Homo sapiens: one gene and its partners. The protein of the gene in region 1 interacts with the protein of each later gene in a pairwise test. Each region holds a gene or a part of one and is shown in the gene's direction. Other genes may lie near its edges.

Region 1 (3,971 bases):
TGGCGACTGTCTGCAGTCCTAGCTATTCAGGAGGCTGAGGCAGGAGGGTTGCTTGAGCCCAGGAGTTCCAATGAGCTTTTTTTTTTTTTTTTTTTTTTTGAGATGGAGTTTCGCTCTTGTCTCCCAGGCTGGAGTGCAGTGGCACGATCTCAGCTCACTGCAACCTCCACCTCCTGGGTTCAAGCCATTCTCCTGCCTCAGCCTCCCGAGTAGCTAGGATTACAGGCGCCCGCCACCACGCCTGGCTAATTTTTGTATTTTTAGTAGAGACGGGGTTTCACCATATTGGCCAGGCCAGTCTCGAACTCTCGAACTCACCTCAGGTGATCTGCCCACCTCAGCCTCCCAGAGTGCTGGGATTACAGGTGTGAGCTATGGTGCCCAGCCATTGAGCTTTGATCATGCCACTGCAATCCAGCCTAGACAGCAGAGCAAGACTCTGTCTCAAAAACAACAACAAAAAACATTATTTGGAAGTCCCTATATGTGTCAAATATTGAGCTTTCTGGCACATAAGTTGATAATACTGACTTTGTTTTATAAACAGGGTTTGTGATAAGCATGTTGTGAACACTTCTGGGCCAGTTAAATGGTAAAGACCACAAAGCATTTTTATTTATGAGAAGACATCCTACAATACAATGAATTAACATACCCACTTTTTTTTTCCAGATACAGTTTATGTAACTTGATGGAAGAAAATGGAATTACTCCAAAAAGACAAGTGCTCAAGCAGCAAAATCCTTACTTCCAGCAAAATCCAAACTGCTGTCTCTTAAATCTCTTAAACTCTCTTCTTCCATTAGAATGCTACAAGTAACTCAGTGAAGGCCCATGAAGGAAATTGGGACTAGTTTATAGGAGAACGTATCAATACAGTTTATAAAGCCAAGAATTGCTATGATTTAAGACTAAGATCTGTCTTTTTGGTGACTAACCCTTCAATTCTTTCAACTCCTGTTAATACCCATAATCAGTAACCTATCAAGAAAAGCCCTTATTTGGAAAGTGTGAAATTTGTATTTGGAAAAGCTGCCTGGAGAGAAGAACTGTGTCCTTTACTGTATTTCAACAGGACTCTTTTGGGGGATCAAAATTAAAATTCCTAATTATGCATTATCTTTCTTTTCTCCAGTCCTCACAAATACAGAAACAATAACTGAAATTAACTTTTCTTTTTTTAAAAAAAATTATATTCAGTTTGCAGTAGACATTCCTTAAGTATTTGTATTTATTTATGATTATCAATTTTACATAACATTAATATTGTATCAGACCTCCTTATGAAAATGAGTATGGATGTGCACAGTATGTTTGATTTTTATCCACAAGAATGAATCTGATTCAGAATGCTTTTCTCAGCTGACATACAGAGCACTAAATATTTTAAGGCAAGTCCATAGGTCTGAATCTCTTAAGAATTCTCGGCCTCTGTGGGATTTAGGGAAGCATTATAAATGCATTAATCCTTATAGTCAATTCTGTGCCTAGGATTTTGCCAGGGAACAGTTCACTGACTAGGAAAAGCACTACATTTTAAATTCAGCATTAGTGCATTGGGAAGGATCTTTACTGCTTTGTGCTTGGCATGTCATTATTTTCCATTTGACATTAGGGCCTTTCCAAAATGAATGTGAGGAATTGCTTTCACTTCAAGACTTTCCTTCTTTTCACTAAAACTCTAGAAGGTGTTACAAGGGGGAGGGAAGGGGGGCAAAGTCCTTGAACATTTTCTTTGGCTCGTGCCATGTTATGATCATATACCTTTTAAATAAGGGGAAATAGTATCTTTAAAGTTAATGTCTAGCCAAGAGTTTAGTAAACGAAGAATTAAACTGCACTGTTGATCGGTGCTTTGTGTAAATACATCTTTAACATTTGGGTGGAGAGGGGCCTTAAGAAGGACAGTTCATTGTAGGAAAGCAATTCTGTACATGAGTTTAAGCATTCTTGTTGCATTGTCTCTGCAGATTCTATTTTTGTTTACAATATTAAAATGTATGTTAGCAAAATGGGTGGATTTTCAAATAAAATGCAGCTTCCACAAAAGTTTTGTTATGGTATTCTGGTCTGAGATGCATTTTCATTTTTCCTTTCTCTTTTTATTATCAATATTGTCATTTTTCCCTAATAAAATATACCCAGGTGATTATATTTGTTGATCTAATAACATGGAAGGTTTGTTTTATATGAATTTTCAAAAAGATGTCTCTTTACACTTTTTGTTACCTTGTAGACTCTTATTGATAAATGCAACTACTTATTAAAATTGTTCACTTTTTGTCTTTTGATCAGATGCCTTTAGTCAGGTAAGTTTAAGGGAAAATACGCAGTTTAATGTTTTGGTACATATAATTATGTCTGCCAAAGAAACCTTTGATTGTATCATATTGCCTATTTAGTAGTGCATAGGGTTCAGAGTACATGATAAAGGATCAAAAGCTTTGCATTGATAAGTGTCTCATAATATTTGCTGTGATTGGAGAAAAAATGTAGTCGTAGCCAATAAATTTTATCAGCTTTTAAGTTTCAGTATTATTAAACCATTTTCATATAAACTGGGAAGTTGTACTTTTATAAGTTACCCTCCTTAACTTTACAAATTTTTGTCTCTTGTGGTGTTTGAGGAGGTGTTTATATTTAAGGTCTGTGGCTTGTTTTCTTTCATATTGCCTTTTTTTTTTTAAGTATGTTTCAGTATGTGACGTGCTTCATAGCCATTTTTATTTCATTGTTTAAACAACTTTTGGGCTATGTTTGATAAGTGTTATCCATATTTTACCCATTTTATATGTAGGAATCAGAAATCAGAAAAGGAGCTGGGTGCAGTGGCTCACACCTGTTATTCCAGTAATTTGGGAGGCTGAGGTACATGATCACTTGAGCCCAGGAGTTCAAGACCAGCCTGGGCAACATGGTGAAACGCTATCTGTACCAAAAATACAAAAATTAGCCAGGTATATGCCTATAGTCCCAGCTACTTGGGAGACTGAAGTGGTAGGATCACCCGAGTCCAGGATGTTGAGGCTGCAGTGAGCTGGGATCATGCCACTGCATACTCCACCCTGGGTGACAGAGTGAGACCCTGTTTAAAAAAAAAAGGAACTTGCCCAGATGAGTAAGTTAACAGATGGAAATCAAATCTTTGCTTTCATGGTCCATTGTTCTCTCTGTGACCTGCTGTCACGTAATTCATATATATATACTGACATGGAGATTGTTTCCCTCTGCAATCTAGACTGATGGCCACTCTTTATTCCCAGTGGTCTTTAGTGAAGTACATTTCCTGCCTCCTCCTCTGATGCCCAGACATCGTTGACAAGGAAGAATGCAAACATGCGACAAGAGCAACTTTAACCAAAATATAATGAGTGAAGTAAATCAGCTATTGATTACATAATTACATCAGGCTGTAAACTCATACATGCTCATGTCATTTTACTATCCAGTTAGCAAGTAGCTATTGGCTGAGATAAGAGAGAAGATTGTAAGCAGAGGACAACTGTACCTGTCCCAAATCGTTTTCAAAATTATTTGCCTTTGATTTAACATCTATCAGCATTCAGCATTTTTTAAAAGGTATCCCTTTCTTAACAAGTGACTATGAGAATACATATTTAGGAAGAGGACTTCCTTATGTTAGCCTAGGAATCTTCTGCTTTTCCAGAAGCCAACAAAATGTGACTTATGAGAAATAGGCCTTAATGGGATGTTTTTCTTGAACTAAAAATAATTTCAAGGTTCTTCTCATTTATCGTAACTCACAAACACGCTTCCAAACTCTGTTTGCTTATTCTACAAAATTCCACAGAGAAAAAAAATCTCTCTTAAGAGTGAGTGTGGCTCCTGTGTGCTAGCAGTGACTAGGTCACAATGTATGGAGACACCACAGTAGTAAGCCAGATGAATTTATTCTTGCCTTCCAGGAAAGATATTTCACAGCTTTCATCAGTGGCCTCTGCAGTCAGCTT
Region 2 (4,570 bases), on another chromosome or scaffold:
CCGCTTCGAGGAGGACTTCATCGAAAAGCGGAAGCGGAGACTCATCCTCTGGATGGACCACATGACCAGCCACCCTGTGCTCTCCCAGTACGAAGGCTTCCAGCATTTCCTCAGCTGCCTGGATGACAAGCAGTGGAAGATGGGCAAACGCCGGGCGGAGAAGGATGAGATGGTGGGTGCCAGCTTCCTGCTCACCTTCCAGATCCCCACCGAGCACCAGGACTTGCAGGACGTGGAAGATCGCGTGGACACTTTCAAGGCCTTCAGTAAGAAGATGGACGACAGCGTCCTGCAGCTCAGCACTGTGGCATCAGAGCTGGTGCGTAAACATGTGGGGGGCTTCCGCAAGGAATTCCAGAAGCTGGGCAGTGCCTTCCAGGCCATCAGTCATTCCTTCCAGATGGACCCCCCCTTTTGCTCTGAGGCCCTCAACAGTGCCATTTCTCACACGGGCCGTACCTATGAAGCCATCGGGGAGATGTTTGCTGAGCAGCCCAAGAATGACCTCTTCCAGATGCTGGACACACTGTCTCTCTACCAGGGCCTGCTCTCCAACTTCCCTGACATCATCCATCTACAAAAAGGTAAGGCCCAGTGCAGGCAGGAAACTCGTCCTGAGTCTGGCTCTCTGCTGGGCCCTGGGGAGATGGGGATGGCCTGGATAGAATGGAGCAACTTGTCTTTATTTCTCTGTCTCAATCATTCATTTAACAAATGTGTTGGGCTGGGCACGGTGGCTTACGCTTGTAATCTCAGCACTTTGGGAGGTTGAAGTAGGAGGATCACTTGGGCCCAGGAGGTTGAGACTACAGTGAGCCCGATTGTGCCACTGCACTCCAGCCTGGGTGACAGAGTGAGACCCTGTCTCTAAAACAAACAAACAAACAAACAAACAAACAAATGTGTTGAATATCAACTCTGTGTCTGTGGCAAATGTGCTTCTAGGTGCAGGGATATTGTTGTGCACAGGCCCGGTCTCTGTCCTCATGGAGCTTGATATTTACCTTCTTGTCAGTTCATTCATTTTCTCTGTTTGCATCTCGTTTACCCATCATGCATGGTGTCATGCTGGGTTCTGAGAACACATAGATGACCAGGCCCCAGGCCTTGCCCTTGAGGAGCCGGTAGGCCCTTGGGAGACACAGACCCAACCCAGATAACAAGAGCTCAGAGTGGGGGCCTGTCTTGTGCTCCTTGCAAGTTAACCTCCCCACCTTTGCAGCTTTGGAAGCTACTCTCACCACTGTGTATTCTCTTTATGAGCGTCTTGTCTGTGTGCAGGAAGATCCCTGTCCCCATTTTGCAGATGAAGGAGCTAGTGTCCACAGAAGAGTGGTTGCACAGCCTGTGGCCCGGCTGGGACTGTCCCTTCCTCCTGCCACCTCCCCAAGGACACGTCCATGTTGGCCACTTCCCAAGCCTAGCCATGTTTTCAGTTCTCATGACCCCCTCTGTGGGGGAGGGACAGGATGGGCCTCTGCCTGTTACTGCTGGGGCTGTCCATGAACTGCCGGGGAAATGACTCATCCTGGGTCACACAGGGGCACTCTGGCTGGGCCAGGGGTGCAGAATCAGGGGTCCAGGGCACTGTCCACATGGCCTATCCAACTCCTGCTTCCCAAGCCTGGCTTCTCTTCTTGCCTGAGGAGAGAGCCAGTGGCTGCCCCAGCAGGTGCCTGAGTCCTGGGCACAGCTGGGAGGGCAGATGTCAGGAGAGAGGTGTGATCCTCCCTGGGGCTGCTTGGTAACTCGTCTGCAGGGCGTGGAGCTGGCTCCCTGGCCCTTGGGCCCTGAGGTTAGACCTGGCTTGGTGGGGAGTTTGACTCTGGGTGGGGCCAGGGGGCAGACCTCTGCACTGAGCCTGGGGAACAGGAAACATGTCACCCACCACCACCAGGGAGGGCCTGGGGTAAGCTGGCCTTGCTTTCCTTTACCAAGAGGTTGACTTCTATAACTTCTCCAGCTCCCAGCCTCCTTTCTCCCCTTGCTATATCCTCTTCCTCTTCCTTTCTTTCTGTTTTTTTTTTTTTTTCTCTCATCTCTACCTTTCTTCCTCCTCCTCTGAACTCCAGGAAACACAAACCTGAGTGCTAGTCTTGGCTCTGCCCCTAGATTGCTGTGCGTCCCCGGGGAGTGCCTTTGCCCCTCTGGGCCTTAGTTTCCTGATCTGTAAAACAAGGGAATGGGGTCCCAGTGAGCCATCAGGCCTTCAAGGGAGTGGGTGGGAAGGGACTCCTGGGGAGGGTATGGCTCAGAAACAGAATGACACCTTAGCTCTGGCTCTGAGCACTGGGGCAGGAGTAGGGCAGGGGAGGTGGCCAGGCCTGCTGGGGGCCCACTGGGGCAGGTGTCTCCCTGAGCACAAGTGGGAAGGCTGGTTCAACCAGCTCCTTAGATGGCTTGTTCCTGTGCAGGCAGCAGGAGGGGGAATGCAATGATTAAACAGATGCTCCCATGCAGTGGCTGGGGACCCCCCACCCAGAGCAGAGCTGAGGACATTAGGGCAGCCCCACACCTAGGAAGGACACCAGGGCCTCCCAGGCTGGGGGGAAGCCAGACCAGCCTTTCTGACCCTGGGCAGAGAGACAGAGCTGAGATAGGCCATTTCTGAGTTTCTACTTGAGGTGTTTCTAAGAGTCAGAGGCCACTGTCCTCTGTGCTGGTGCATTTGACCTGAAACAGAGGCCAGCCCACTGCCTTCCCTCCCCGGGAGGACCCCTCCCAATGGGCCAAGCCCTCTCTGGCTTACTCTAAGTTCTGGGCTCTGCACTGCTCCTCCCAGGCCTGTGGTGTGGGGCAAGTTAGGGAGGGGGTACTGAGACAGAACTGGACAGGCTTTGGGGACCACAGCCCAATGGGAGTGATAAGGAGGGGGTCCTAATGCTGGCCTTAGGGGTGGAGCCCTTCTCAAAGAAAAGAGAAGAACAGTTGGGTCCTGGGCCCCCAGGATTCTGTCCAGCCTGTCTGGACATCTGAATGGGTGGTGAGTGTGTGGGAGGAAGGACAGTGGAGGCCTAGGTGGGAGTCAGGAGACCAGGATTTGGACAAACTTTGCATCTGACATGACTTTGGGAGAGATTTCTCCCCTCAGTCTCTAGGTGAGTAAAATGGGACCCGAGGGTCTTCATTTCCTTAGGAGGGCTCCATGTCATGTGAAACTTACATTAAACAAATTTGTATGCTTTTCAGAAAAATAATAAAATGAAATAAAATGGGACATAAACCCTGGCTGGAGCTGAGAGGAGCCTGGTCCTCCCACGGGCCTAGTCCCTGTAGCCCAATCCAGGGGTCTCCTAAGAGAAGGGTAACCATATAATTAACCAGGGCAGTTTGGGGCATAAAAGGGGGCCCTAGCAATAGTGATCCCGGGACAACAGGGGAAAGTAACTGTCCAGGGCAAGCTGGGACGTATGGACCCCCAACTTGACAGCCAGCAAGAGCGGGGCTGGTCCTAAGGCTCACGACAGGTCAGGAGGGCGATGTGGTCACTTCCGTTTTACAGACGAGGTGCAGCGATGCAGATGAGCCTCAGAGCAGGAGCTGGAGTCCAGTGTGTCTGGCTCCGCAGCCCAGGCTGTTTCCACTGTGCCCTCCCAGATGGGGGAGGGGATCCCCAGGGATGGAGAGCTGAGCCAGAAGGCGAAAGAGGAGGGAGGAAGGCTTGGGTGCTCCTTCACTGGTCCTGTGGGCTAGAGAGAGGCCCAGGACCACAGAGCTTCCATGGAGGGGCCATAGGGACAGCGTGGCCAAGGCAAAGTGGCGACTGTAGGGACAAGTTCTTGCCTGGGGGATGGGTGGGTTCAGCCTCTGGGTTCTGAGCCATCATCTAGCCTTCCCTCTACCGCTCATCCTGTAATCTCAGCACTTTGGGAGGCCGAAGTGGGCGGATCACAGGAGTTCGACACCAGCCTGGCTAACATAGTGAAACCCTGTCTCTACTAAAAATACAAAAAAATAGCCAGGCATGGTGGCAGGTGCCTGTAATCCCAGCTACTTGGAAGGCTGAGGCAGAAGAATTGCTTGAACCCAGCAGGCGGAGGTTGCAGTGAGCCGAGATCAAGCCACTGCACTCCAGCTTGGGCAGCAGAACAAGACTCCATCTCAAATTAAAAAAAAAAAAAAAAAAGAAAAGAAAAGCAGTTTTCAAGCCATAACATGTAGCATCTGGAGCTTCTATTGTATCTCAGGTGCGCTCCTTTGAACTGTGTACATATTAGTTCAGTTAAGCCTCAACTATACTATAGGGCAGGTACTATTATTATCCCATTTTACAGATGTGGAAACTCCTTAAAGCACTATACCGTGTGAGAGGTTGTCAACAGCATCACATCTAGTGCAACCTGTCCCACTGGGCAGTGGGGAGACCTGGAGCCCAGGCAAGAGCAGTGGCTTGCTGGAGAGGATACAGCTAGGACTAGGACTCAGACCTCCTGCTCCCTCCTGCCCCCAACCTGGGGTGGATGTTAACTGTCTCCAAGAGGCAGGGGCAAGATGGATTGAGGTGGGAGCTTAGGGAATATCCCTGGGACTTGCAGCTGGTGGGCTCCAACCCTCCTTTCTGCATTTTTGG
Region 3 (4,570 bases), on another chromosome or scaffold:
GAGTTTTGCTCTTGTTGCCCAGGCTGGAGTGCAATGGCGTGATCTCGGCTCACTGCAACCTCGCCCCCCCACCCGGGTTCAAGGGATTCTTCTGCCTCAGCCTCCCGAGTAGCTGGGATTACAGGCATGCGCCACCGCGCCCAGCTAACTTTGTATTTTTAGTATAGATGGGGTTTTGCCATGTTGGTCAGGCTGGTCTCGAACTCCTGACCTCAGGTGATCTGCCTGCCTCAGCCTCCCAAAGTGCTGGGATTGCAGGCATGAGCCACCATGCCTGGCCAGTCTGTTCCTTTTTATTGGTAGATAGTTTTCCCTGGTGTGGATGCACCACAGTTTAGTTAACCAATTACCTATCGAAGGACACGGGGGTTGTTTCCAGTTTGTGGCTACTTTGATTAAAGCATCCGCATGCATTTGTATACAGGTTTTTCTATAAACATGAATTTTCATTTGTTTGGATAAGTGTCCAGGAGTACAACTGTTGGTTGATACTGTAGTTGCATGTTTAGTTTTATAGGAAACTGCCAAACTGTGTTCCAGAGTGGCCATATCTTTTTACATTCCTGTCAGCAATGAGTGATCCAGTTTTCCCTAACCAGCATTTGGTGTTGTCACTATTTTTTATTTTAGCCATTCTGATTGTTGTGTGGTGATGGCTCATTGTGGTTTGAATTCGCATTTCCCTAATGCCTAATGATTTCAAACATATTTTCATGTGTGTGTTGGCCATCCTTATATCTTCTTCAGTGAAATGTGTCTTTTGCCCATTTTCTAATTGAATTATTTGCTTTCTTGCTGTTGTGTTTTAAGAGTTCTTTGCATATTCTAGCTATAAGTCCTTTATTGGATGTGTGATTTGCAGTTGTTTTTGCTCATTCTGTGACTTACCTTTGCGGCTTCTTCCCAGGGTCTTTCGCAGAGCAAACATTTGAAATTTTTGTCATGCTTTTGGTGTCAAGTCTTCGAACTCTTTGCCTAGTCCTAGATCCCAAAGACTTTTTCCTCCTGTGTTTTTTATCTTAAAGTTTTATAGATTATATTTAAATCCATAGTCCATTTCGAGTTAATTTTTGTTTAAGATATGAGATTAGGTCAACGTTTTGTTTGTTTTTTGGCTTATGGATGTCCACTTAACCCAGTGCCAAATGGTGCAAAGCTCTCTCTGCCACTAAATTGCTTTTGTACCTTTGTCAAAGATTGCTTGGGCATATGGACATATTCGTATGGATCTACTTTTGGATTCTGTGTTCTGTTCATTTGATCTATGTCCCTCTGTCAATACTGCACTGTCTTGATTACTGTAATTGTATAAAAAGACTTGAAGCCTACGCGGTGGCTCACACCTGTAATCCCAGCACTTTGGGAGGCCGAGATGGGAGGATCACCTTAGCTCAGGAGTTTGACACCAACCTGGCCAACATGGTGAAATCCCATGTCTACTAAAACAAAAATTAGCTGGGCATGCTGGTGTGCGCCTGTGATCCCAGCTACTTGGGAGGCCGAGGCAGGAGAATCGCTTGAATCTGGGAGGCAGAGGTTGCAATGAGCCAAGATCACACAACTGCACTCCAGCCTGGGCGACAGAGTGAGACTCCGTTTCAAAAAAAAGCCTTGAAATTGGGTAGACTGGTTATTTCTGTCTTTATTCTTTTTCTGAAAATGTTTTAGCTATTGTAGTTCCTTTGCCTTTCTGTATACATTTTAGGATAATCTTGTCTATACAAAAACATTGGCTGCAAGTTTGGTAGGATTTGCATTAAACATGCGTATCGGTTTGGGGAAAATTCATGTCTTTACTGTGTCCTGTCTTCCATTCCATGGACACAGTGTGTCTTCTCATTTATTTAGATTTCCTTTGATTTCTTTCATCTGCATTGTTTCGTTTTCCATTTCCAAGTCCTATACATGTTTTGTTAGATTTACAACTAAGGATAGTCTTCTATTGAACAATTGTCAATGGCATTGTATTTTTAATTGCAGTGTCCATGTTTTCATTGCTCATACATAGAAATATAGTTGATTTTCATATGCTCATCTTGTATACTACAACCTTGCTGAACTCACTTATTAGTTGTATGAGTTTTACGTTTTACTTAAAGTCCCAATTATTTAACACTTTCTATGTGCCAGGCATTATGCTAAAGCTTTCTTGTACTTGTCCAAGCCAGTAAATGGTGGAACTAGGATCTTCATACATAAATCATTTATCCACTTCATTAGTTCATTTCACAAATTCTTAGGCAGAGCTTATGTGAATCACAGTGAATCTAGGCACAAGGTCCTGCCCTCCTGAGCCCACAGTCTGAAACTAGCAGAAGTAATGCAAGTGAATATGTAGCTATGATACGTTCAAATTAAATAAGTTGATTTGTTACAACTGAGTGCATTTACTAGCTCATTCTGTAAGTGGGTGAGGCAAGGAAGGGCCCCTTACCGGTCTGGAGTGGGTGGGGGGGTGTCCAGGGAGGGCTTCCTAAAGAAACAGTGTTGCAGGGCATGATGGCTTACATCTGTAATCCCAGCGCTTTGGGAGGGCAAGGCAGGAGGATCACTTGAGCCCAGGAGTTTGAGAGTAGCCTGGGCAACATAGTGAGACCCTGGCTGTAAAGAAAGAGAGAGAGAAGAAAGAAAGGGAAGAAGATAACCATCTGATCTTTGACAAACCTGACAAAAACAAGCAATGGGGAAATGTTTCCCTATTTAATAAATGGTGCTGGGAAAACTGGCTAGCCATATGTAGAAAGCTGAAATTGGATCCCTTCCTTACACCTTATACAAAAATCAATTCAAAATGGATTAAAGACTACATGTTAGACCTAAAACCATAAAAACCCTAGAAGAAAACCTAGGCAATACCATTCAGGACATAGACATGGGCAAGGACTTCATGTCTAAAACACCAAAAGCAATGGCAACAAAAGCCAAAATTGACAAATGGGATCTAATTAAACTAAAGAGCTTCTGCACAGCAAAAGAAACTACCATCAGGGTGAACAGGCAACCTACAAAATTAGAGAAAATTTTCGCAACCTTCTCATCTGACAAAGGGCTAATATCCAGAATCTACAATGAACTCAAACAAATTTACAAAAAAAAAACAACCCCATCAAAAAGTGGGCAAAGGATATGAACACACACTTCTCAAAAGAAGACATTTACGCAGCCAAAAAACACATGAAAAAATGCTTATCATCACTGGCCATCAGAGATATGCAAATCAAAACCACAATGAGATACCATCTCACACCAGTTAGAATGGCGATCATTAAAAAATCAGGAAACAACAGGTGCTGGAGAGGATGTGGAGAAATAGGAACACTTTTACACTGTTGGTGGGACTGTAAACTAGTTCAACCATTGGGGAAGTCAGTGTGGCGATTCCTCAGGGATCTAGAACTAGAAATACCATTTGACCCAGCCATCCCATTACTGGGTATATACCCAAAGGATTATAAATCATGCTGCTATAAAGATACATGCACACGTATGTTTATTGCGGCACTATTCACAATAGCAAAGACTTGGAACCAACCCAAATGTCCAACAACGATAGACTGGATTAAGAAAATGTGGCATATATACACCATGGAATACTATGCAGCCATTAAAAATGATGAGTTCATGTCCTTTGTAGGGACATGGATGAAACTAGAAACCATCATTCTCAGCAAACTGTCGCAAGGACAAAAAACCAAACACTGCATGTTCTCACTCATAGGTGGGAATTGAACAATGAGAACACATGGACACAGGAAGGGGAACATCACAATCCGGGGCCTGTTGTGGGGTGGGGGGAGGGGGGAGGGATAGCATTAGGAGATATACCTAATGTTAAATGACGAGTTAATGGGTGCAGCACACCAACATGGCACATGTATACATATGTAACAAACCTGCACATTGTGTACATGTACCCTAAAACTTAAAGTATAATAATAATAAAAAAATTAAAAAAAAAAAGGAAAGAAGGAGAAAGAACTGATGTTAATTTTCCCAAGCTTATTGATTCTTATCAACTCACATCAGTTTCTGACATTCAGAGATGTCTGTGATCAAAGCTCATATGAAGAGAATTCTAAATGTTGCATGGCAAAGAACCCAAGAACTCCTGGCCCAAACCGCATGCAGCTCCCCACTCGTCTCTGCGTCCTCCTCACCTCCTTCACCTGCTGCTGTCTCAACTTGACCCCTTCCATCTGGCCCCTGACCCCTGGACTCTGTGGCCTCCCTGAGCGGCCAGCACAGTCACGTCTAAGTCGACCTGACCATCTGCCTGCTGGGTGCTGCTGGCTGCTGCTGGCTGCTGCTGGCGCTGGCTGCCCTGCACATTCTCCATGCCCTCCTTTCCATGGCACCAGTTTCTGCCTCTCCTTTGGGTTTCTTTCCCCTTGCCCCCTGGCAAGCTGGGTTTTGAAGTCATTTGGGATGGAAGGTGGGCCATTTGAAGAGCTGTAGGGTCAGGCCCTCATTCTGCCAGTCCATTTGGGAAAAATCTTCCATGTCACTAAGCTCTTGTAACAATAGCTACAAAAGTTGCTTGTTAGTTGGGAACTGAAATCTGCCTGTATAG
Region 4 (4,570 bases), on another chromosome or scaffold:
CTGGAGCATCCCATGCACCCAGCCCTGCTGGGCACACCACACGGGGGCCAGCCTGGGGGCCCCTGGACCCGGTGCAGGTGGGGCCGCCAGACAGCTGCCTGCTGCGGCTCCGGGCAAGGGGAGCCAGGGCCTGCTCGTCAGGGAGAGGCCTGGGCCTGGGGAGTGGGTTGGGTGGGGACACAAGTACAGGACACAGGTGCAAGGCGGCGTCTTGGAGCTGGAGCAGACAGAACTTGCTGACCAGTGCACAGTGGTTGGGAGGGCGGGGCAGGAGAGGCAGGGTCCGCCCTGGGGCTTTGGAGGCTGGGGCAATGGCCCTGTGCTCGGCGGGCCTAGGGCCTGGTTGGAGCCTGTCCTCTGCACTGTGGAGGGGGGCAAGGGTCCACAGGCCTTGGGGGTGGAGAGAACAGTGTCAGGACAGAGTTTGAGGGTAGGCGGGGTTGCTGAGAGGATGCTGCAGTGGAGGCCGGGGATATCTCAGCAGCCTCCTGGAGGGTCCGGCCCTGCCTTCCTGTGTCCTCTCTCTCCCTTCCCCTCCTGCTCTTGGAACCAAGGGCTCCTCGCTAGCCCACTCCCTAACCCCGACTAGGCCTTGGATCCCGCTGTCTCAATGGATGCTGTTCTCCCCTCTGAATTCCAGTTGTTCCCTGCCAGAGCTACCATTCTCAACAAGCCCTGGAAACAGGCCTGGGAAACCTGGGAGGAAGGACCTCCCATCCCCCAGGGGCCCAGGGACAGACCCCAGGCACGCGGAGAGTCCTGGTGGTGGCAGGGCTCAGAGGTTGCTGGGGTTCCCCACCTGCTTATCAGACTGACTTTTGCTCTGGTCCTTCCCTGATGCCTGGCCCCTCCCGTGGGTGGGGCTGCCTGCATCCCCACCCTTCCTCCTCTGAGCACCTGGCGTCTGGTCTCCGCCTCTCAGTCCTAGTCTTGGCCTGCAGAGGTTGTAGGGTGGGGGACTTGGGGGGTGGGGTTGGACACAGAAGCCCCCGTCTGTCTAGGCTATGGGGTTTCCTGTCTCTCGTTCCCTGGTCTGGGTCTCACGCGTTTCTCACCCGCCCTCCAGCCTCATCAGCAGCTGTGGGCTCAGGCCCCCCTCCCGAGGCGGAGCAGGCGTGGCCGCAGAGCAGCGGGGAGGAGGAGCTGCAGCTCCAGCTGGCCCTGGCCATGAGCAAGGAGGAGGCCGACCAGGTACTGGGCGTGCAGCTGGGGCTGTCTGTCCGCCACCCGCCTCCACGCCTCACTTCAGGCTCCCTCCCAGCCAGGCGTGGGCCTGGCCCTCACTGTCGCTGCTCCACATGCTGTCACTCGTCTCCTCCCCAGTCCTGCCTCATCCTCACCCCGCCGTCCCTCTGCGTGTCACTCTCTGCCTGTCCCTCACTGGTTCAGGGACCCCCAGCCCTCTCTTTCTTCGGCTCTATCTGACCCTGGCTCTGCCTCTGACTCTGCCTCTGGCCCCTCCCGTCATGCCCCTCACACTCTCTCTCCCCCAGCCCCCGTCCTGCGGCCCCGAGGACGACGCCCAGCTCCAGCTGGCCCTTAGTTTGAGCCGAGAAGAGCATGATAAGGTCAGAGCAGCCTCCCTGTCCCTGCCCCTGCCAGGGGCTCCCCTCAGACCAGCCCCGTCGCCCCTTCCTAAGTCACCCCCCACCATCCTGCTGGGCCCGAAGCCCACAGGCTCACGCGTGTTGAAACCTCAGTACCTTCAGCCGTAGGATGTAGGACCACAAGTCAGACAGAGCCTGGGTGGTGGCCAGCACAGCTGTGCCAAGGTTGCTCGGGTGACCAGGGTCCCTTCCTCCCCCCAACGCAGGAGATACCACCGAGGCGGGTGCCCGTCCTCCCCGGGTGCGCCAGCACAGCACCCCACTCCCCTTATCCCCTGTCCCGCCTGACCTTTGACCCAGGTGCCCCATCCCCATTTCATACATTGTCCGCATCCCATCGAATCCTTCAGCCGCTTTCGTTGGGGTGGGAGGGGTTGCTGGGGCTTCCAGGCTGAGGTGGCATCTGCCCGTGGCTCACGTTCTCATGTCTCCCTGGTCGTGCCCGTGCCCCAACAGGAGGAGCGGATCCGTCGCGGGGATGACCTGCGGCTGCAGATGGCAATCGAGGAGAGCAAGAGGGAGACTGGGGGCAAGGAGGAGGTGAGCGGGGCTTGTTCTGCCCTCCCTGGCCCCTGCAGGTGTCCGTCCGTCCCATCGCTCATTCCTGCGTGGCCAGGTCCCTGGAGCAGAGACTGAAACACAAGGTCCTGGAGCTGGGCACCGGGTTTCCAGGCTTGGTCGGCCTCTCTGTGCCTCTCCCTCCCTGCTGGGCTGAGGCCGGTGACTGACCAGGCTGCCCTGCGGCCACCTCCTGTGGTCAGCGCTGGCCATCCCCCTTCGGGCTGAGCACCGTGAGGGCCACCACCGGCCGCCACAGCTGAATGGGGAGGCCCAGAATAGGCCAACAGCCTGGCATGGCCACAGGGAGGAGGGTGCAGGGCTCGCCCCATCTGTCACACTTTGTCGGGCACCTCCTTGGTGCCAGGCCGTGTGCTGCACACCCAGGGCCTGTTGGTGAGCGAGGAGGCATGGTCCCGCCCTCGCGAACACTGTTTCTGTGGCGTCCCCATGCTCTGCAGCTGAGTAGCAAACCCTCCCACAACCTTGTGCTTCCAGGTCACGCTTCAGTACTTCCCTGTGACGGGCCCGCTGGCTGGTTGTTTCGTGTCATGGCTGAGGTCACTCATGCCTCTGGGCCCGGGGTGTCCGCACTGGCCTTGCCCTCCAGCCTCCTCCCCTGGCCTCTCCCTGGTTACTAGTCTGTCCTGAGTGTCCTCATAGCACAGTAGCTGCTGCTGCTGCCGCCCCCCAGGACAAGCTCGTCGGGCTGGGTTGGAGTTGCCTCGTCAGCCTGTGCACTGCTATTGGTCTCAGCAGGTCCTGAGGCCAGCCCAAGTTTGAGGGGTGGGGACAAGGCCTCCTCTCCATGGGAGGCGGCAGACAGCTTGTGGCCATAAGTGATCAGGCACAGTGGGACTTTCTTGGTAGACGGAAAGCCTCTTTAGGTTGGCCTCGGCCAGGGGGTCTCTATCAGTGTCCACCACAGCCCAGTGACCCGAGTAAGGGCTGCCCTGCTGGGGGAGCACCAGATCTCACCCATCTCTTCTCCTGCCCTGCCCTGGACTCAGCTCTTCTCCCCTTCCCATCCCCGCCGGGGCCTTTGCCTCACGGGTGCTGACTGGAGATGTGTGCATGAGTATGTTGGGGGCATCTGCACGTTCTGAGACGGGCTCTGGTTAGCTGGGCCCGTCGTGTGCCCACTTCCAGAACACAGGACCATGCATGCGTGTGCGTGCGGCATGGGAAGACCTGCAGTGCGATGACTGCGGGGTGACAGTGGGGCAATGGGCGTGGGAAGGCCTGCAGCGCGATGACTGCGGGGTGACGGCGGGGCAACGTAGGGGGCATCGTGAGGGGTGCTCAGGTTGACCTGAGTGGGTTCATGGGGGGCTTCCCAGGGGAAGGCATGGAGCAGGGGCTGGCCAGTCTGGCTGGAGAAGGCACGGTGGGCAGAGGGAGGATCGAGCTGCTTCGGGTCGAGCGAGGGGAGGGCTTGGCCTCCATCCTCAGTCAGGGCCGGGCAAGGACCTGGGAGCAGGTGGAGTTAAGGGGCTGCCCTGCTGCAGTGTGGAGAATGGATGTGGGGCAGGAGTGGGGCTGTGTTGGGGCTCCCTGGTGGTACCCTCGGGTGGGGTAGGTGGGCAGGGGTGGGCCGACCCCATGACGGATGAGGAGGGAGGCCAGGTGGTGTGTTTGGGGCCTGCCTCCCTCTCACCCCTTATGGATGGCTGCTGTCTGGACACCCAGGGCCTGGCCGCCTCCCCCGCCACGGGCCCCAGCTTGGTCCCTGTCCCAGGCTTCCCACCACTTCTTCATGCTCCTTCTCTTCTCTCTCCCCCACAGTCGTCCCTCATGGACCTTGCTGACGTCTTCACGGCCCCAGCTCCTGCCCCGACCACAGACCCCTGGGGGGGCCCAGCACCCATGGCTGCTGCCGTCCCCACGGCTGCCCCCACCTCGGACCCCTGGGGCGGCCCCCCTGTCCCTCCAGCTGCTGATCCCTGGGGAGGTCCAGCCCCCACGCCGGCCTCTGGGGACCCCTGGAGGCCTGCTGCCCCTGCAGGACCCTCAGTTGACCCTTGGGGTGGGACCCCAGCCCCTGCAGCTGGGGAGGGGCCCACGCCTGATCCATGGGGAAGTTCCGATGGTGAGTGCGTGGCCCACTTGCATGCAGCCCCTACGCCTGTGTGCACCTGTCTTTGGTTGACTGTGCCCTTGGACAGGGACAGATCGAGCCAGTGGCGCCGGGCAGTGGTGGGGCGTCCTGGGTGCAGGGGAGGGGGCAAGGGCGGGGGTCAGATGAGAGCCCAGCACAGGGTGTGTGAGATTGTGCCTTGGAGGACATGGGGGGTGTGCTGTGGGGAGGGGATGGCAGCTCAGCCGAGGGGCAGAGAGGCTCTGGCCAAGGCAGAGCGTGTGTGACGTAGGCATCTGGGGAGGGCGGTGGGTGGAGCTGGGAGGTG

What was found. The genes of interacting proteins can lie anywhere in the genome.
Region 2: the proteins of PICALM (region 1) and SNX33 interact in a two-hybrid assay, tested with the Homo sapiens proteins (one large-scale study listed by IntAct).
Region 3: the proteins of PICALM (region 1) and TRAF3IP1 interact in a two-hybrid assay, tested with the Homo sapiens proteins (one large-scale study listed by IntAct).
Region 4: the proteins of PICALM (region 1) and EPN1 interact in a two-hybrid assay, tested with the Homo sapiens proteins (one large-scale study listed by IntAct).

What each region holds. Positions count from the first base shown.
Region 1 is NC_000011.10:85,955,762-85,959,732, reverse strand, and holds the end of PICALM (phosphatidylinositol-binding clathrin assembly protein), read left to right. Parts: intron 1-672; coding exon 673-687; 3' UTR 688-2,558; downstream 2,559-3,971. UniProt on the Homo sapiens protein: Cytoplasmic adapter protein that plays a critical role in clathrin-mediated endocytosis which is important in processes such as internalization of cell receptors, synaptic transmission or removal of apoptotic cells.
Region 2 is NC_000015.10:75,649,990-75,654,559, forward strand, and holds part of SNX33 (sorting nexin-33), read left to right. Parts: coding exon 1-584; intron 585-4,570. UniProt on the Homo sapiens protein: Plays a role in the reorganization of the cytoskeleton, endocytosis and cellular vesicle trafficking via its interactions with membranes, WASL, DNM1 and DNM2. Acts both during interphase and at the end of mitotic cell divisions.
Region 3 is NC_000002.12:238,392,596-238,397,165, forward strand, and holds part of TRAF3IP1 (TRAF3-interacting protein 1), read left to right. Parts: intron 1-4,570.
Region 4 is NC_000019.10:55,687,804-55,692,373, forward strand, and holds part of EPN1 (epsin-1), read left to right. Parts: intron 1-1,066; coding exon 1,067-1,191; intron 1,192-1,493; coding exon 1,494-1,568; intron 1,569-2,063; coding exon 2,064-2,147; intron 2,148-3,950; coding exon 3,951-4,254; intron 4,255-4,570. UniProt on the Homo sapiens protein: Binds to membranes enriched in phosphatidylinositol 4,5-bisphosphate (PtdIns(4,5)P2). Modifies membrane curvature and facilitates the formation of clathrin-coated invaginations. Regulates receptor-mediated endocytosis.